Linked DNA regions of Homo sapiens: region 2 is linked to region 1. The links come from fine-mapping of genetic effects on gene expression. A gene starts in region 1. The other region holds a variant in brackets. All regions are shown on one strand. Distances are from middle to middle. Region 1 holds the start of CAMSAP3 (calmodulin regulated spectrin associated protein family member 3). Region 2 has its middle 25 kb from the start of CAMSAP3.

Region 1 (10,476 bases):
ACAGAGCAAGATGCTGTCTCAAAAAGAAAAAAAAAAGAAATATAATGCGTATAATGTGAGCCCAATGAGCCGTCAAGTTTCCTAGAAGCCACATTACATATGTAGAAACAATAAGAATTTAGTAATATATTTCATTGACCCAAGACATATCCCACTCTTATTTTAACATGTAATCAACATAAAAATATTATTCATAAGATATTTTACACTGGTTTTTGTTGTTTGTTTTTGGACCAAGTCTTTGGAACCCTGAGTATATTTTACATTTACAGCACATCTTGGTTCTGATCAACCACATTTCAAGTGACTCAGTAGCCACATCTGGCTGGTGGCCACCATATTGAATAGCACAGGTCTACAACATAGCTAGGATGGATGGATGGATGGATGGATAAATGGATGAATGGGTGGGTGAATGGATGGATGGATGGATAAATGGATGAATGGGTGGGTGGATGGATGGATGGATGGATAAATGGATGAATGGGTGGGTGGATGGATGGATGGATGAATGGGTAGGTGGATGGACAGATAGATGGATGGGTAGATGGGTGGGTGGGTGGATGGGTGGATAAGTGGATGGGTGGGTGGGTGGAAGGGTGGGAGGATGGGTGGGTGGGTGGATGGATGGGTGGATGGAAGGGTGGGTGGATGGGTGGGTGGATGGATGAGTGGGTGGGTGGATGGATGAGTGGATGAGTGGGTGGGTGGATGGATAAGTGGGTGGGTGGATGGATGAGTGGATGAGTGGGTGGGTTGGTGGATGGATGAGTGGGTGGGTGTGTGGGTGGATGGATGGGGGGTGGGTGGGTGGATGGATGGATGGGTAGACGAGTGGGTGGGTGGATGGGTGGATAGGTGGATGGGTGGGACGGTGGGAGGGTGGGTGGATGGATGAGGGGGTGGGTGGGTGGGTGGATGGATGGATGGGCGGGTGGATGGATGAGTCGGCGGGTGCATGGATGAGTGGGCGGGTGGACGGATGGGTGGATGGGTGGGTGGGTGGATGAGTGGGTGGGTGGGTGGATGAGTTGGTGGGTGGGTGCGAGGGTGGGAGAGTGGGTGGGTGGGTGGATGGATGAGTGGGTGGGTGGATGGGTGGATGGATGAGTGGGTGGGTGGGTGGGTGGAAGGATAGATGGGTGGGTGGGTGGATGGACGGACGGATGGGTAGATGGGTGGGTGGGTGGATGGGTGGGAGGGTGGGTGGGTGGATGGGTGGGAGGGTGGGTGGGTGGATGGCTGGGTGGGAGTGTGGGTAGGTGGATGGATGGGTGGGTGGATGGATGGATGGGCGGGTGGATGGATGAGTGGGCGGGTGGATGGATGAGTGGGCGGGTGGATGGATGAGTGGGCGGGTGGATGGATGGGTGGATGGGTGGGTGGGTGGATGAGTGGGTGGGTGGGTAGGTGGATGAGTTGGTGGGTGGGTGGATGGATGGATGGGTGGATGGGTGGGTGGATGGATGGGTGGATAGGTGGATGGGTGGGTGGGAGAGTGTGTGGGTGGGTAGGTGGGTGGGTGGATGGGTGGGTGGGTGGGTGGATGGATGGGCGGGTGGATGGATGGGCGGGTGGATGAGTGGGTGGATGGATGAGTGCGTGGTTGGATGGATGAGTGGGGTGGGTGGATGGATGAGTGTGTGGGTGGATGAGTGCGTGGGTGGATGGATGAGTGGGGTGGGTGGATGGATGAGTGGGGTGGGTGGGTGGGTGGATGGATGAGTGGGGTGGGTGGATGGATGAGTGCGGTGAGTAGGTGGGTGGGTGGATGGATGGATGGATGGATGGATGGATGGATGAATGAATGGGTGGGTGGAAGGATGGATGAGTGGGTGGATGGATGGGTGGATGGATGAGTGCGTGGGTGGATGGATGAGTGGGGTGGGTGGGTGGGTGGGTGGATGGATGAGTGCAGTGGGTAGGTGGGTGGATGGATGGATGGATGAATGAATGGGTGGATGGATGGGTGGATGGATGGATGAGTGGGTGGATGGATGGGTGGATGGATGAGTGCGTGGGTGGATGGATGAGTGGGGTGGGTGGATGGATGAGTGGGGTGGGTGGGTGGATGGATGAGTGCAGTGGGTAGGTGGGTGGGTGGATGGATGGATGAATGAATGGGTGGGTGGATGGATGGATGAGTGGGTAGATGGATGGGTGGATGGATGGATGGAAGGCTGATTGAGACAGGATCTCACTCTGTTGCCCAGGCTGGAGTGCAGTGGCGTGATCATAGCTGACTGTACCCTGGAACTCCTGGGCTCAGGCAATCCTCCTGCCTCAGCCTCCTGAGTAGCTGGGACTACAAGCCCATGCCACCACACCCAACCATTTATTTATACCATGACCTTCCCTGCATCCAGTCATTTAATCCTTACGACACTTATTATTATACCCCTTGTACAGATGAGAAAACCAAGGCCTGGAGAGCTGAGATAACTTGTCCAGGATAAAAATGTCCAACATGAACTTGAGTTTCCCTCACACATCACACATCTGTTCTGAAGGCATAAAGAACTGCATGGGGTGTTTTCCAAATGTGTTTAACATGGAACCCTTTGTTTTTTGAGACAGAGTCTCTCTCTTTCACCCAGGCTGGAGTGCAGTGGTGCAATCTCGGCTCACTGCAACCTCCGCCTCACAGGTTCAACAATTCTCCTGCCTCAGCCTCCCAAGTAGCTGGGACTACAGACGTGTGCCATCATTCCCGGCTAATTTTTGGATTTTTAGTAGAGACGGGGATTCATCGTGTTGGCCAGGCTTGGAACCCTTTCTTATCTAATCTCCAAGCTTGTGTTCTGCTTTTATTTCTGCACAGCCTTCTCACACCTGTGCCTTGGAGTTGCCAGAACTATCCCTTCCTCTGAGCCATCACTACTCCCACGGGGCCACTGCATACCTGATCTTGTCAGTTCCCAACACTGTCCGTGGCTCCCCAGTACCCTTGGATCCATAACCAGGGGCCTGAAGGGCCTTCCTCAGTCTGACCAGCCTCCCTTATCTCCCACCGCCACCCCGGGGACCTGCATCTTATTCTCTGAGAACTCCCTGCTGGTCCACACTCCGAGCCTTTGCCCACTGCCCACACATCTCTTCTCCGTGTCAAACTTCCATGCATCCTTCCAGACTCAAATCTTTCCACCTGTGGGATCTCTTCCCTCCCTGGAAGATTTCAAGAATTTCTTTCCCCAGGCCCCGCTGGCCAGCTTCCCTATGATCTGGTTTCCTGCCCATCCCCCTCTGCCCCATATCCATCCCCTGCCGTCTCCTCTACACCCTGAGCGCCCAGCCCAGCACCTGATAGGTATCATACCGTCAAGAGTCCCCAGAGCTCATGAATCTTGTAGAACTCTGCTCCCATTTCCTTCAGCCCTTCTCCTCTTTTTAGGGGAGTGGAACAGGGAACAGATTGAACTTGACCCTCACGGTAGAGGCAGCCACTGCCGTGTGTCACACAGCAGAGGGAGCTGGGTCAACAAGAACAGAACTGGGTGAGTCAGGGCACTGGGAGCTCACCAACACCCCTCATCAGAAGTTTGCTTTGCTGTCTTCAAAATGGGATAATTTCTACTCTGATTCCTGGCCAGGGGATAATGGATAACGTTAATATTATTCATCAAAATATACCACCGCCAATCACACCAGCAGCGAGCAACCGTTTCGCATGTATCACGCGCCCCGTGCCACGCGAAGAATTCTGTGGTCACTACAGCTTTTACGCCTCCCAGCAACCTTGCAAAGAGGTAACGGGGGGTCTCCATCACTGGAGCAGTGCCCTACACATAGCAAGTGCCCCTGCCCCACAAACATTCGCAAAACAGATAAGTCTGTGAATGAACGCCTTCTTTTATAGAAGGGGAAACAGAAGCTCAGATAATTGGGATAATTCGCATTCTGGTGCAGCTGGACTTCACATTCAATTCTGACACTCCACGTTGAGTTCTCTACAGCCTGGTAACCTTGGAAGTGAGGAGCTGGGGCTGTCCTGGCTGTCCAATGCCCAATCTCTTTCTTCCTCAAGCAAATATCTGCAGGGAGGTAGACCCCAGAGTGGGAAATGCATGCATGGAACGACGCAGACAGAGACTGTCTGGGAGAAAGAGGGACAGGCTGGGGCGGAACCAGGAGACGGACAGCTGTCACTGAGACCCACACCCAGAACAGGTTGATCTGGGAAGGCCAGGGAGAGGGGGGATGGGCTGTGCCAACACCAGTGGGCAGAACCAGTGGGAGAAAAGGATGTACCCCCACAGCTCCCCGCTGGAAAGCCCAGACCTTAATTAACCCCTGTCTTCTCTGGCCAGGCCCTGACTCCTAGCTCTGGCCTGGGGTTGTGAAGCTGCCCAAAGCCGAGACTGAGTGTTTCCAGGGCCTCTAATCCCGGGGACCCGGGATTACGGCATCCTCCCCATTAGGGTGGCTCGGGCTCTCAGGCAAGCGGGCCTGGGGGAGGGAGTGAAGGATCTGCTCTAATGGGAGAAGGCCCCGCAGCCGGGAGGAGCGGGGGGCCCACCCCAGGCGATCTTGTACTACCCATTTCCCTTCAGCTGGGCTCGCCAACCTCCCCAGTAAAATGGGGCCATAAGTCGCAGCTGCCAGGCGCTGGAGGGGGCTATGGAGGCGAAAGGGGGTTCCCAGAGCTCCCCGGTCGCCGCCCGCAGCGCGGCCAGGGCCGACGCGGGGTGTGTGTTGGGGCCTGGGGGTCGTGCGGTGGTGGAGACCGGAGCGCTCGAGACCCCCCAGCGAGGTCGGGGTCTGGGTCTCCAGGGTGTGTGGCGGGGGAAGAGACCGAGAGGAGATCCTCGCAGGGGCGTGATGTGTGTAAAAGAGAAGAAGGCGTGCAAGGGAAGGCCTTGGGGGTGCGGGAGGCGGGAACGAGAGGTCCGCACGGGGAGACCCCACCCGGCCCGCAGACCCCGCCCGGCTCACCTGGAGGCTTGGACGCCGGGGACCCCCGCGCGGAGCTGGGCCGCGGGCCCCACCCCCACCGCGCTCCCGCAGCCGGCGGGGCAAAGTCCACCGCCCGGGCCGAGCAGGAAGCTCGGAGGCCCCGGCGCGGCAGGGGCCCGAGCCCGGGGACCCCCGGCGGCCGGCGCTATTGTTCCCACGGCCCCCTGCCTTCCCGGCCCGGCGCCCCGCCCCCCCCCAGCACCTGCCGCGCCCGGCCCGCCGCCCCCGACCCCGGTCCCCCGAGCCCCGGTACCTGCGCCCCCGAACGCGGCCCGCAGCACCCACGCCAGGCTGGCCGCCGCCTTGGCCCGCGAGAAATCGTACTGGTCCAGCGACTTGATCTCGGGCACTAGAAAGGTCCTCCGCAGCGGCCCGGGCCCGGGGGGCGCCGCCTCCACCATGGCGGCGCCGGGGCTGCGGGCGCCGGGTCCGCGCTCGGACTGGGCTGGGCTGGGCTGCGCCGCGCTCGCGCCCCAGCCGGGCCCGCTGCTGCTACCGCCGCTGCCGCCGCCGCCGCCGCCGCCGCTGCTGAGCCAGGTGCGGCCGCTTGCGCTGGCGACGCTGCGTCGGGCCCGCCCCGGGGAGGAGCCCAGGTGCGCCCCGCCCCCGAACCCGGACCCGGACCCTGGCGCGCCCCTGCGCCCCGCCCGGGCCCCTCACTGCAGTGTGCACGGAGCAGCAGGGGCGGGGCGGAGGGGGGCGGCCTGGACTGCGGCGATGGTGGAGGGAGCTTGCGGAGGACTGAGTGTGTATGTGTGCGCGCGCGCGTGTGTGAGTGTGTGCGCGCGCGCCTAGCTTACTGGAAAGGATTAGGGACCCTCTGTGTGTGCCAGCCCCAGTGTCTACCCTTAGGCGTAGGAGCTCCTGCAAGTGCTTGCAATAAACGCCGGCCCTCAGGCAGAGAGTGGTTGGGTGCACCTGTTTCTGATTATGTTAGTGAAGGCACAAGAATATGAGTGTCTTCGTATCTGTGTATCTCTGAATACATTTGGGTGGTGACCAAGTGTATTGGGGGGTGTCTAGGGGTGTGTGTGTGTGGGGTATGTATCTGGGCACGTGTAAGTGTGTGTTTAATTTGTTGTGTGTACAAGGATATGTATTATATAGATGTCTGTATCCTGAGGATGGATGGAAGTGATGAGTGTGTGTCTGTTTTTTGTTTTTGTTTTTGTTTTTGTTTTTGAGACAGGGTCTCACTCACTCTGTCTCCCAGGCTGGAGTGCAGTGGCGCGATCTCGACTCACTGCAACCTCCGCCTCCCAGGCTCAAGCGATTCTCCTGCCTCAGCCTCCCGAGTAGCTGGGATTACGGGGTTGCGCCACCACTCCCGGCTAATTTTTGTATTTTTAGTAGAGTTGGGGTTTCACCATGTTAGCCAGGCTAGTCTCAAACTCCTGACCTCAGGTGATCACCCGCCTCAGCCTCCCAAAGTGCTGGGATTACAGGCGGCAGCCACCGTGCCCGGCTGTGTGTGTGTTTTTGGAGTGCTGTGAGTATGTCTATCTCTGTGCATCTGAACGTACTGGTGTGTTGTATGAGGCTGTTATTGATGCCTCTGTCAATGCAGGAGTATGGAGAGACATTGAGAGTGTGTGTATTTCAGGCCGAGAGCGGTGGCCACGAGTGTAATCCCAGCACTTTGGGAGGCCAAGGCGGGCAGATCACTTGAGGCCAGGAGTTCAAGAGTAGCCTGGCCAACATAGCAAAACCCCGTCTCTACTAAAAATAAAATTTTTAAAAATTAGCCGGGCATAATGGTGCATGCCTGTAATCCCAAGTACTCGGGAGGCTGAGGCGGGAGAATCGCTTGAACCAGGGAGGCAGAAGCTGAGATAGTGCCACTGCACTCCAGCTTGGCCAACAGAGTGAGACCCTGTCTCAAAAAAAAAAAAAAAGTGTGTATATTTCTGCAAGAGTGTGACTATTTGTGTCTATGAGTGTCCTTGCGTAGCTGTACTGGGTGTATTTGCAAGTGTCTTTGTGTATTATTCTGGTATCTGCAGTGTGTGCTGGGAGAAGGCTCTGTGTGGAGGTGAGGCTGTGTGTCTAAGTGGGTTTGTATTTGAGTATGTGAATCTGGCTATATGCACATGGATGTGTGATTGATTGATTGATTGATTTTTTGAGACGGAGTCTCGCTCTATCGCTCAGGCTGGAGTGCAGTGGTGCGATCTTGGCTCACTGCAAGCTCTGCCTCCTGGGTTCATGCCATTCTCCTGCCTCAGCCTCCCGAGTAGCTGGGACTACAGGCACCCGCCACCACGCCCGGCTGGTTTTTTGTATTTTTTTTTAAGTAGAGACCGGGTTTCACCATGTTAGCCAGGATGGTCTCGATCTCCTGACCTCGTGATCCGCCCAACTCGGCCTCCTGAAGTGCTGGGATTACAGGCTTGAGGCACCGCGCCCAGCAGATGTGTGATTTATGATGAGCAGTTCCTGACTATATTTTTGTGCATATATGTGTGTTTATATGTGAGTATCTTTGTGGATTTGAATATATGGTGGGTGCCTGTGACAGATTGTGTAGGCATGAAAGCAGGTATACCTGTGCAAGAATGCCTGTTTCTGCTGGGTGCAGTGGCTCATGCCTGTAATCCCAGTGCTTTGGGAGGCTGAGGCGGGTGGATCACCTGAGGTCAGGAGTTCAAAACCAGCCTGGCCAACATGGTGAAACCCCATCTCTACTAAAAATACAAAAGTTAGCCGGGCGTGGTTGCCCACACCTATAATTGCAGCTACTTGGGAGGCTGAGGCAGGAGAATCGCTTGAACCCAGGAGGCAGAGGTTGCAGCAAGCTAGGATTGCACCACTGTACTCCAGCATGGGCGACAGAGTGAGACTCCGTCACATTAAAAAAAAAAAAAAGAATGCCTGTGTCTGAATGCTTTTGTGAGAGTTCAAATGTGCATATTTATCTAGGAATTCATATCTGTGTAAGCAAATGTATTTCTGTGTATGAATCTGATTGTGTCTGTAAGTATGGAAGTGTGTGTGAACGCGTTGAGTACAAATATTTGTGTACATGAGTGCAATTGTGTGTTTATTTGTAAGGTCTAAGCACCGATTTGTGGATTTTTGGTTTTTTTTTTTCTGTTTGTTTTTTTTTTTTTTTTTGAGACCGAGTCTCGCTCTGTCACCCAGGCTGGAGTGCAGTGGTGCAATCTTAGCTCACTGCAAGCTCCGCCTCCCGGGTTCGCGCCATTCTCCTGCCTTAGCCTCCCCAGTAGCTGGAACTACAGGCGCCGGCCACCATGCCCAGCTAATATTTTGTATTTTTAGTAGAGACGGGGTTTCATTGTGTTAGTCAGGATGGTCTTGATCTCCTGACCTCAGGTGATCCACCCGCCTCGGCCTCCCAAAGTGCTGGGATTACAGGCATGAGCCACCGCGCCCAGCCGGATGTTTTTAATATTTTAATATTTGCTTTTGTTCTATTGTTTGTTTTGTTGTTGTTGTTTTATTTTTTTTTTGGACAGGATCTCACTCTGTCACCCCAGGCTTGAGTGCAGTGGCACAATCATGGCTCACTGCAGCCACCATCCCTGGCTAATTTTTTGTTTTGTGTAGAGATGGGATCTCCTTATATTGCCCAGGCTGATCTCAAACTCCTAGGCTCAAGGGATCCTCCCACCTCGGCCTCCCAAAGTGCTGGGATTACAGGCATGTGCCACTGTGCTTGGCCCTCCATTGTATTTTTGTCAAAATATCCCCTGCATGCCTCTTAGCTGTATATAATTGTGAATGCACAAGTGTTTGTGTGAGTTCGTTCTTTACAGGCCTGGAAAGAAAAGTGTGTTACTTTCGGCCAGGCACGGTGGCTGAAGCCTGTAATCCCAGCACTTTGGGAGGCCGAGGCAGGTGGATCACTTGAAGTCAGGAGTTCAAGACCAGCCTGACCAACATGGTGAAACCCTGTCTCTACTAAAAATACAAAAATTAGCCAGGCATGGTGGCACATGCCTGTAATCCCAGCTACTTGGGAGGCTGAGGCAGGAGAAGCGCTTGAACCCAGGAGGCAGAGGTTGAAGTGAGCTGAGATCTTGCCACTGCACTCCAGCCTGGGTGACAGAGCCAGACTCTGTCTCAAAAAAAAAAAAAAAAGAAAAGAAAAACGTGTGTTACTTTCAGAACACACACACACACACACACATACATAGGCACCTTGTCACCTTGTGAACAGGAATAAGTGCTCACAGACTCACACAAATATTCACAAATTCACACAAATGTAAATGTCAGCTTCATGCACACAAATGCACTCAGAAAGTGATACGTAAAAAGATAACATACAGGCCGGGCACAGTGGCTCACTCCTGTAATCCCAGCACTTTGGGAGGCTGAGGCAGGTGCATCACCTGAGGTCAGGAATTCGAGACCAGCCTGGCCAACATTGTGAAACCCCATCTCTACTAAAAATACAAAAATTCCCTGTGTGTGGTGGCTGGCGCCTGTGATCCCAGCTACTCAGGAGGCTGAGGCAGAAGAATTGCTTGAACCCAGGAGGCAGAGGTTGCAGTGAGCTGAGATCGTGCCACTGCACTTTAGCCTGGGCGAAAGAGCAGGACTCCATCTCAAAAAGAAAAAAAAAAAAAAAAGACCGGGCCCAGTGGCTCACGCCTGTAATCCCAGCACCTTGGGAGGCTGAGGTGGGCGGATCACCTGAGGTCCGGAGTTCAAGACCAGCCTGACCAACATGGAGAAACCCATCTCTACTAAAAATAAAAAAAAAATTAGCCAGAGGTGGTGGTGCATGCCTGTAATCCCAGCTACTTGGGGGGCTGAGGCAGGAGAATTGCTTGAAACCAGAAGGCAGAGATTGCGGTGAGCTGAGATTGCACCACTGCACTCCAGCCTGGGCAACAAGAGCGAAACTCCGTCTCAAAAAAAAAAATAAATAAATAAATAAATAAATAAATTCCAACACTTTGGGAGGCCAAGGTGGGCAGATCACCTGAGGTCTGGAGTTCAAGACCAACCTGACCAACATTGAGAAACCCCATCTCTACTAAAAACACAAAATTAGCCAGGCATGGTGTCGCATGCCTGTAATCCCAGCTATTCAGGAGGCTGAGGCAGGAGAATCGCTTGAACCTGGGAGGTGGAGGTTGCGGTGAGCCAAAATCGCACCATTGCACTCCAGCCTGGGCAATGAGAGCAAAAAAACTCCGTCTCATAAAAAAAAACAAAAACAAAACGCTATGAAATGGAAAGACGCTGTGGCAAGGTGGTCTCCAAGACCCTTGACCCCGGATGGTGGCCCCAGAGCTAGCTCTTTGTTGAAATGGCACGTGTGTTTGGGGCGTGGGTCTCATGGTCCGGAGCATGTGAGCAGGCATGGGGGTGGGTGTGCCGAGGGAGGGGAGCTGGGGCGTGGGCCCTCCTGTCTGGATGTGCCCGTGCAGGAGTGGGTGTGGGTGCGCAAAGGGGCCAGTGTCTGTGTGTGTGAGCACAGGTGCTGATGTGGATGACGCATGCCCCGGCTCCTGTCCCAGTCCCCTCGAAGGACCTAAACAAGGTCTTTTC
Region 2 (10,476 bases), 26 kb after region 1:
CGGTTTGTTCACATCTGCTCGTATCCACGCCCTTGGGGAGTCCCCTCCCATGCTGACTCAGGGTTTGGCCATATGACTTATTTTGGCCAATGGGACAATAGAAAATGTGAGAGAAGCAGAGGCTTGAAAAGCATTTGCACACTGAGGTAAAAGAGGGGATATCACTACAGTCCCTATGGACATTAAAAGGATAATGAGGAAATTTTATGAACAACTCTGTGGCAATAAATTTGACAATTTACCTGACATAGACAAGTTCCTCAAAATGCAAAACCACTACGCCTTTATTTTATTTTGAGATGGAGTCTTGCTCTTGTCACCCAGGCTGGAGTGCAATGGCACAACCTTGGCTCACTGCAAACCTCCACCTCCCTGGTTCAAGCGATTCTCCTGCCTCAGCCTCCTGAGTAGCTGGGATTGCAGGCACCTGCCACCATGCCCGGAAAGAAAAGTACAGACCAATATTCTTCAGGAACATCGATACAAACAATCCATCACAAAATATTAGCAAATTGAGTCCAGGAGTATATAAAGAGGAAAACATGTCCTGATCAAGTGGAATTTGTCCGAGGGATACAAGGTGGGTTCGGCATTTGAAAATCAATCAATGGGACTGGGCAAGGTGGCTCAGAGAGAGACTCTGTTTAAAAAAAAAAAAAAAAAGTGGCCGGGTGTGATGGCTCATGCCTGTAATCCCAGCACTTTAGGAGGCTGAGGCAGGTGGATCACCTGAGGTCAGGAGTTCGAGACCAGCCTGGCCAACATGGTGAAACCCCGTCTCAACTAAAAATAAAAAAATTAGCTGCGTGTGGTGGCAGGCACCTGCAATCCCAGCTACTCGGGGGACCAAGGCAGGAGAATCGCTTGAACCCGGGAGGCGGAGGTTGCAGTGAGCTGAGATCGCGCCAGTGCACTCCAGCCTGGGGGATAAGAGGGAGACCTTGTCTCAAAAAAATAAATAAAATAAAATAAAATCAATCAATGGAATTGCCAAATTAAGAGATTAAACAAAGAAATACATGAAACATGGCTAATATCATACTTAATAGTAAGACTCAATGTTTTATCCTAAGATTGGAAACAAGGTAAGGATGTCCAGTTTTGTTTTGTTTTGTTTTTTTTTTGAGACAGTCTCTCTGTCGCCATGCTGGAGTGCAGTGGCGCGATCTCAGCTCACTGCAACCTCTGCCTCCCAGGTTCAAGCAATTCCCCTGCCTGAGCCTCCTGAGTAGCTGGGATTACAGGCGCGTGCCACCTTGCCTGGCTTCTTTTTTTTTTTTTTGTATTTTAGTTGAGACGGGGTTTCACCATGTTGGCCAGGATGATCTCGATCTCCTGACCTCGTGATCTGCCCACCTCGGCCTCCCAAAGTGCTGGGATTACAGGCGAGAGCCACCGCGCCCAGCCTGGTTTTTGTTTTGTTTTTTGAGACAGGGTGTTGTTGCTTTGTCCCTCAGGCTGGAGTGCAGTGGCACGATCTCATCTCACTGCAACCTCTGCCTTCCAGGTTCAAACGATTCTCCCAACTCAGGCTGCCAAGTAGCTGGGATTACAGGCACATGCCACCACACCCAGCTAATTTTTGTATTTTTAGTAGAGACGGGGTTCCGCATTGTTGGCCAGGCCGGTCTCGAACTCCTGACCTCAGGTGATCCGCCCACCTTGGCCTCCCAAAGTGCTGAGATTACAGGCGTGAGCCACCATGCCTGGCCAAGGATGTCTGTTCTTACTACCTCTATTCAGTATTGTATTGGAAGTCCCAGACAGTGCAATAAGGTAGGAAATGAAATAAAAAGCACACAGACTTGGAAAGAAGAGAAAGATGATAGCGAACATATATGAAAAGAAAGAAAAATAAAACATCATCTACACAAAAAATCAGAATGAATGTACAAAAAACCTACTAGATCCAGTAAGTGATTTAGTGAAGTTGTAGAATACAAGGTCTATATATAAAACTAAACTGTATTTCTACACGATAACAATGAATAATTGGGAATTGAAAAATTTAAAAATCAATATCTTTTTTTTTTTTTGAGATGGAGTTTGGCTCTTGTTGACCAGGCTGGAGTTCAGTGGCGCCATCTCAGCTTATCACAACCTCCACCTCCTGGGTTCAAGCGATTCTCCTGCCTCAGCCTCCTGAGTAAATGGGATTACAGGCATGCGCCATCACGCCCATCTAATTTTTGTATTTTTAGTACAGACAGGGTTTCTCCATGTTGGCCAGGCTGGTCCCGAACTCCCAACCTCAGGTGATCCACCCACCTCAGCCTCCCAAAGGGCTAGGATTATAGGTGTGAGTCACCATGCCTGGCTTTTTTTTTTTTTTTTTTTTTTTTTTTTTAGGACTAAGTCTCACTCTGTTGCCCCAGGCTGGAGTGCAGTGGCATGATCTCAGCTCACTGCAACCGCTGCCTCCAGAGTTCAAGTGATTCTCCTGCCTCAGCATTCCTGAGTAGCTGGAATTACAGGCACCTGCCACCACTCCTGGCTAATTTTTGAATTTTTAGTAGGACGGGGTTTCACTATGTTGGCCAGGCTGGTCTTGAACTCCTGACCTCGTGATCTGCTGGTTTCAGCCTCCCAAAGTTCTGGGATTAGAGACATGAGCTGCTGTGCCCAGCCGTGACTCCGTCTTTATAAAAAAAAAATTAAAAATGAGCTAGGCATGGTGTCGCATGCCTCTAGTCCCACCTACTTGGGAGGCAGAGGTGGGAGGATCGATTGAGCCTAGGAGGTGGAGACTGCACTGAGCTATGATCATGCCTGTGCACTCCCTCCCAGCTGGGCGACAGAGAGAGAACCTGTCTCTAAAAAAAAAACAAGAAACAAACAAAAGAACAGGGACTTGAACGTGCACAGAGTGGCAAGTTCTGCCGCTTGCCAGCTAGATGGCCTCGGGTTTAAGCTCTCCCAGACTGTTTTACCATCTTTGTATTCTACCTGATTTTAGTCCCTGACACAAAAGTTTGCTTTGTAATGTAAAGAAAACTAAGCAGGACTGGGGCAGTGGCTTGTCAGTAATCCCAGCGCTTTGAGAGACTGAGGCCGGAGAATCGTCCAGTTTAAGACCAGCCTGGGCAACATAGTGAGATCCCAACTCTGAAATAAACCAAACACAAAAATTAGAGATAACATAAAGATATCCTCACAGATGCACGTGAAGATTCGTACATATTCATCCCCTCGCCGGGCGCCGTGGCTCATGCCTGTAATCCCAGCACTTTGGGAGGCCAAGGCGGGTGGATCACCTGAGGTTGGGAGCTCGAGCCAGCCTGGCCAACATGGAGAAACCCTGTCTCTACTAAAAATACAAAATTTACCAGGCGTGGTGGCGCATGCCTGTAATCCCAGCTACTCAGGAGGCTGAGGCAGGAGAATTGCTTGAACCCGGGAGATGGAGGTTGCAGTGAGCTGAGATCGTGCCTTTACACTCCAGCAATAAGAGTGAAACTCCATCTCAAAAAAAAAAAAAAAGATATTCATCCCGGTTTCATTCATAACACTGAAATGTCAGAAACAACCATGATCACAGGATTAAGTTACTTGATAAATATAACCATAACCCCCCCCCGCCTCAAAACAGTGGCTGGTATACAATAAGTGTTCAATAAACATGAACAATGCTTGATATTCTGCCTAATTGATGTGACAAATATTTCCTCCCAGACTGTTGCTCTGCCTGTCTTCTGTTATGTTTTATTTTCTGTTTTGTTTTTGTTATTGTTTTTTGAGACAGAGTCTTGCTCTGTCGTCCAGGCTGGAGTGCAGTAGTGCGATGTCGACTCACTGCAACTTCCACCTCCCGGGTTCAAGCGATTCTCCTGCCTCAGCCTCCCAAGTAGCTGGGACTAATTTTTGTATTTTTAGTAGAGATGGGGTTTTGCCATGTTGACCAGGCTGGTCTGGAACTCCTGACCTCAGGTAATCCGCCTGCCTCGGCCTCCCAGAGTGCTGGGATTACAGGAGTGAGCCACCATGCCCGGCTTTCTGTCATTTTAAAGAAATATTTAGGCCAGGTGCGATGGCTCAAGCCCGTGATCCCAACACTCTGGGAGGTGGAGGTGGGCCAGCCACTTGAGCCCAGGAGTTCAACACCAGCCTGGGCAGAACAGTGAGACCCTGTCTCTACTTTTGTAAAATAAAAAATAATAAAATTTAAAAAGAGCCAGGCAAGGTGGCTCATGCCCGTAATCCTAGCACTTCGAAAGGCCAAGGCAGGCAGATTGCTTGAGCCAAGGAGTTTGAGACGATCCTGGGCAACATAGGGAGACCTCACCTCTACTAAAAATAAAAAAATTAGCTAGGCATGGTGGTACATGCCCTGTAGTCCCAGCTACTTGGGAGGCTGAGGTGGGAGGATCACTTGAACCCAGGAGGCAGAGGCTGCAGTGAGCTGAGACAGTGCCACTGCACTACAGCCTGGGTGATGGGATGAGACCCTGTCTCGAAAATAAATAAATAAGTAAAACAAAAAGAAATATTTAACAATTTCAAAACAGGATCATTTCTGGGGGCTTTAAAAATTATCAAATAAATTTAAAAATTATCACAATAATGCAATCTCATTGTTAAAGTGTCAAACAGTAGAAAAGTAAAAATATTGAAATTCTCCCCCTTAAATTCCCACCCTGATATTTCTTCCCAAGGAACTATCCTCCCAGGGCATCCCGTGCATGTACAAACCTGTGTGTCATGGACGGTCTTGGACG[T/C]AAATGTGATCATACTGTACACAATGTTCTATGACTCTTTTTATCCGTGGAGCAGAGTACCTAGGAATTTTTTTTATGTCAATAGCTATAAGTCTGTTTCATTCTTGTTAATGGCTTCAGAGCATTCCCGTAAGGTACTGTGCCCTAATTTATTAAACTATGCCTCTGTTGTCAGTCACTGAGACTGTTTTCCAATTTTCACTTTTATAAGCAACGGCATCATTGCAGAAAAGCGCTGTGAGGAACACACATCTTTAGACGCATGCGTTTATAGAGGATTGATTGTTGGACGAAACCCGGCTAGGTCAAAAGTTATGCGCTTTATATTTGTTGTTTACTGGGAGGCCAAGGCGGGCGGATCACAAGGTCAGGAGATCGAGACCATCCTGGTTAACATGGTGAAACCCCGTCTCTACTCAAAATACAAAAAATTAGCCGGGCGTGGCGGCGGGCGCCTGTAGTCCCAGCTCCTTGGGAGGCTGAGGCAGGAGAAGGGCATGAACCCAGGAGGCGGAGCTTGCAGTGAGCCGAGATCACGCCACTGCACTCCAGCCTGGGCGACAGAGCGAGACTCCGTCTCAAAAAAAAAAAAAAAAAAATTTGTTGCATGATGACAGTCAAATTCCCTTCCCCCTAAAATCTCCATAATTGACAGTTTCCCAGCCTAACACTGTGAAGATGTTTCTTATTCACCCAACTTTCAGTGTGACTGGATGTGTTAATATTTTTAGCATTTGCCAAATTAAGAAGTGAAAACTGGCCGGGCATGGTGGCTCACACCTGTAATCCCAGCACTTTGGGAAGCTGAGGCAGGAGGATCGCTGGAGCCCAGGAGTTCGAGGCCGGCCTGGGCAACAAAGTGAGACCCCCCACCCGCCTCCGCCATCTCACTTTGAAAAAATAAAACAAATTAGTCAGGTGTGGTGACAGGGGCCTGTAGTCTCAGCTACTGGGGAGGCTGAGGTGGGAGGATTGCTTGAGCCCAGGAGGTCGAGGCTGCTGTGAGATATGATTGCCCAATAGCACTCCAGCCTGGGCGACAGAGCGGTACCCATTCTCAAAAACAGCAAGAACACCAACAAAAACACCAAAAAGATAAAAAAGGAAATAATAATACTACCTATATCAAAGGGCTAAAAATTAAGTTATTTGATAAATACAACCCCCCCCAAACAATGGCTGGTATATATAATAGTAAGTGTTCAATAAACATGAACAAAGCTCGATCATCTGCCTAATTTATGTGACAAATATTTCCTTCCAGGCTATTGGCTTTGTTTGTCTTCTGTCTTTGTTAAGCATGTTTTCATGTCATCAAACGCTCTCATCTTTTCTTTCAAGGCACTGACTTGCAATAAAAGCAAATCTAGGACATTTAAATTGATTGCAGAATAAAAAACTGACTCTGGGCCAGGCACTGGGGCTCACGCCTGTAATCCCATTGCTTTGGGAGGCTAAGGTGGGCAGATCACCTGAGGTCAGGAGTTCAAGACCAGCTGGCCAACATGGTGAAACCCCATCTCTACTAAAAATACAAAAATTAGCTGGGCATGGTGGCTTATGCCTGTAATCCCAGCTACTCAGGAGACTGAGACAGGAGAATCGCTTGAACCCGGGAGGCGGAGGTTGCAGTGAGCCGAGATCAAACCACTGCACACCAGCCTGGGCGACAGAGTGAGACTTCATCTCAAAAAACAAAACAGAACAAAACAAAACAAAAGGAAGGAAATTGGGAAAAAAGAAGGGAGTATTAGCAGTGTTCACATCCAGGCGGTGGAATTCCTGTGACCTTTTCTTTTTTTACACTCTGCTTTCCATGAACATATATTTCCAAATGAACACATATTACCTTTATGTTTATGTTGCATTTGTTTTATAAATTTGTTCTAAGCACACAAGTAATAATTTGTTTGTGGGTTTGTTTGTTTGAGATGGAGTCTCACTCTGTTGCCCAGGCTGGAGTGCAGTGGTGTGATCTCAGATCACTGCAACCTCCACCTCCTGGGTTCAAGTGATTCTCCTGCCTCAGCCTCCCGAGTAGCTGGGATTACAGGCGACCACCACCACGCCCGGCTAAATTTTTTGTATTTTTAGTAGATACGGGGTTTCATCTTCTTGTCCAGGCTGGTCTCGAACTCCTGACCTCAAGTGATCCACCTGCCTCAGCCTCCCAAAGTGCTGGGATTACAGGCATGAGCCACTGCACCTGGCTGAAGCACACAGGTAATGATTTTATAATGAGAACAGTACTCCCTCCCCTCCCCTCCTTTCCAATAAATGTTAATTCTAAACGACAAAAAAAAAAAAAAAAAAAGCAGTAAGTCAGCCCACAGCTACTCGGTGCTTAACCCTCCCCTAGTCAGCAAAGCTCCACCCCGGAGCCAGACGCCTGAACGCCATAGCAGGACCGCCCCCTGGTGGCAGAAAAGTAAGAATCTGGTCCAGGTAGGTGTGTGCGTCAGTTTCCTCCTGCAAGGAGCTCTGTTTTGTTTTATCTTAGTTTTATTTTATTATTAATTTTTTTGAGACGGTGTCCTGCTCTGTCGCCCAGGCTGGAGCGCAGTGGCACGATCTTAGCTCACTGCAACCTCTGCCTCCTGGGTTCGAGCGATTCTCCTGCCTCAGCCTCCTGAGTAGCTGGGATTACAGGCGTGCGTCTCCACGCCCAGCTAATTTTTGTATTTTTAGTAAAGACGGGGTTTCACCATGTTGGCCAGGCTGGTCTCGAACTCCTGACCTCAGGTGATCCCACCCGTCTTGGCCTCTCGAAGTGCTGGGATTACAGGCGTGAGCCACCGTGCCTGGCCTATTTTATTTTATTAATGTATTATTCTTTATTAGAGACGGGGGGGGGGGTCTCACTATGTTACCCAGGCTGGTTTCGAACTCCTGACGTCAAGCGATCCTCCCACTTTGGCCCCCCAAAGTGCTGGGATTACAGGTGTGAGCCACCACGCCCAGCCTGTTTCCTTTTATTTAGATCACAGGTCGGGCATGGTGGCTCACGCCTGTAATCCCAGCAGTTTGGGAGGCCAAAGTGGGAAGATCGTCTGAGGTCGGGAGTTCAAGACCAGCCTCACCAACATGTAGAAACCCTGTCTCTACTAAAAATACAAAATTAGCCAAGTGTGGCGGCACATGCCTGCAATCCCTGCTACTCGGGAGGCTGAGGCAGGAGAATCGCTTTAACTCCAGAGGCAGAGGTTGCGGTGAGCTGAGACGGAGGTTGTGGTGAGCCAAGATCATGCCATTGCACTCAAGCCTGGGCAACAAGAACAAAACTCCATCTCAAAAAAATAAAAATAAAGATAAATTACAAAGCAACCCACTGGGACTAAAATTAGGTAGAATACACAGGTGACAAATTTGAGAATGGGGGAAGGGAAGCCCAAGGTCAGCTGGCTAGCAATGGGCAGAACCTGCCAATCTGTGCAAATGTAGGACCCTGATTTTTTTTTTCCTTTCTGGCAATAAAGAAGGAAAGGAAAATTCCCTGTTTTTTGCTTTTTTTGTTATTATTTTTGTTTCAGAGATAGGGTCTTGCTCTGTCACCCAGGCTGGAGTGTAGTGGTGTGATAATAGATCACTGCAGCCTCAAACTCCTGGGCTCAAGCAATCCTCCTGCCTTAGCCTCCCAAAGTGCTGGGATTACAGGTGTGAGCCGCCATGCCCAGCCTCTTATTTTTTTTAATTTGTTTATTTATTTTTTGAGATAGAGGCTTATTCTGTCACCCAGGCTGGAGCGTAGTGGCATGATCTCGGCTCATTGTAATCTCTGCCTCCCAGGTTCAAGCAATTCTCGTGCCTCAGCCTCGCAAGAAGCTGGGATTACAGGCACGCACCACCACATCCAGCTATTTTGTATTTTTAGTAGAGAAGGGGTTTCACCATGTTGGCCAGGCTGGTCTCCAACTCCTGGCATCAAGTGACCTACCTGCCTTGGCCTCCCAAAGTACTGAGATTACAGGCATGAGCCACTGTGCCTGGCCTAAACTTATTATTAATATTATTTTTATAAAAGGTTTTACTCTGTTGCCCAGGCTGGAGTGCAGTGGTGCAATTATAGCTCACTGCAGCCTCTAACTCCTGGGCTCAAGCGATCTTCTAACTTCAGCTTCCCAAGTAGCTGGGACTACAGAAGCCCACCCTCACACTCAGCTACTTTTAATATTTTTCATAGAGTCAGAGTCTCACTATGTCACCCAGGCTGGTCTTGAACCCCTGGCCTCAAGCGATCCTCCTGCTTTGGCCTCCCAAAGTGTTGGGATTACAAGTATGAGCCACTGCACTTGGCCTGGGTGGCCAAAAGATGTCCTACAGCCTGACCAGGTTGGTTCTTCCCTGTCCAACCTCTACATGGCCATTTCCAGACACTGGGCAACAAACACACCAAGAGGCTGGGTGCGGTGGCTCATGCCTGTAATCCCAGCATTTTGGGAGGCCAAGGCAGGCAGATTTCTTGAGGTCAGGAGTTCAAGATCAGCTTGGCCAACATGGCAAAACCCCATCTCTACTAAGAATTAAAAAGAAAATTAGCTGGGCATGGTGGCATGCACCTATAATCTCAGCTATTCAGGAAGCTGAGGTGGGAGAATCACTTGAGCCCAGGAGGTGGAGGTTGCGCTAAGGCGAGATCACACAACTGCACTCCAGCCTGGGTGACAGATAGAGACTCTGTCAAAGAAAGAAAGAAAAAGAGGAGAGGGAGAGGGAGAGGGGGAGAGAGAGACAGAGAGACAGACAGAGAGAGACAGAGAGAGACAGAGAGAGAGAGACCAAGAAAACACTCTTGAGAATGTGACTTTATCAGTCTCTTGGGTCCACACCTCGTGGCCAGCTCCTGTGGATTGCAGGACAGGGCCCCTGACCCTGAACCCAGGTCCTCACTGTAACCTCAAAATTTCTTGGCGCTAGCTGAGTCTCAAGCTCTGGAACCAGAGAGGGGTAGCCTAGAGAGTCCAGGAAGGTCCAGTTGAGGCTCAGTTCCAACTCTGTTAGTCAATAGTTTGTTTTTTGTTTGTTTTTATTTTAATTTTTTGAGACAGGGTCTCGCCCTATTGCCCAGGCTGGAGTGCAGTGGCATGATCATGGCTCACTGCAGCCTAGACCTCCCTTGGCTCAAGTGATCCTCCTACCTCAGCCTCCCTAGGATCTGGGATTTCGGGCTCACACCACCATGCCTGGCTAATTTTTTGTATTTCTGATAGAGATGGGGTTTTGCCATGTTGCCCAGGCTGATGTCGAACTACTGAGCTCAAGCAATCCACTCGCCTCGGCCTCTCAAAGTGCTTGGATTACAGGCGTGAGCTACTGCAGCCCAGCCTGTTGATCATTAGTGATGATCACCAAATATTTCCAATGCTCTCTCTTCTGGGCACATGGTAGGGCTGTTTTTTCCTGGCCACTTACAGTTGGGTAGGACCATGTGACTTTTTCTAGCCAATGAGCAGTGAGATAAAAGTATTGCATCATTTCTGGACCAGAGTATTTAATGATGGGTATGAGGCCTTCCAGAGATGTCTTTCCTCAGTCACAGTGACCCAAAACATTCCAGATAGTGACTACTTTTGTTTTAGAGACAGTCTCACTCTGTCGCCCAGGCTGGAGTGCAGTGGTGAAATCATAGCTCACTGCAGCCTCGAATTCTTGGGCTCAAGCGATTCTCCTGCTTCGACCTCGCAAATAGCCGAGACTACAGGTGCATGCCACTATGCTCAGCTGATTTTAAAAAGTTTTTTAGAGATGAGGTCTTGCTATGTTT

The links. PIP is the estimated chance that this variant, and not a neighbour inherited with it, causes the effect.
Region 2: its variant is fine-mapped to the expression of CAMSAP3 in unexposed skin (GTEx, PIP above 0.99).

Annotation. Positions count from the first base shown.
Region 1 is chr19:7,590,881-7,601,356 of GRCh38, reverse strand. It overlaps CAMSAP3 (calmodulin regulated spectrin associated protein family member 3), which reads right to left and starts at 5,494. Exons shown (of 17, transcript NM_020902.2): 1 at 5,207-5,494. The coding sequence starts at 5,354. RefSeq lists an enhancer at 3,910-4,515 and silencers at 5,355-5,794, 7,858-8,058.
Region 2 is chr19:7,565,210-7,575,685 of GRCh38, reverse strand. No RefSeq gene overlaps it. Among named protein-coding and RNA genes, the nearest start is that of CAMSAP3, 25 kb to the left of the region's middle. The variant T/C (reference allele first, on the strand shown) is at 4,716.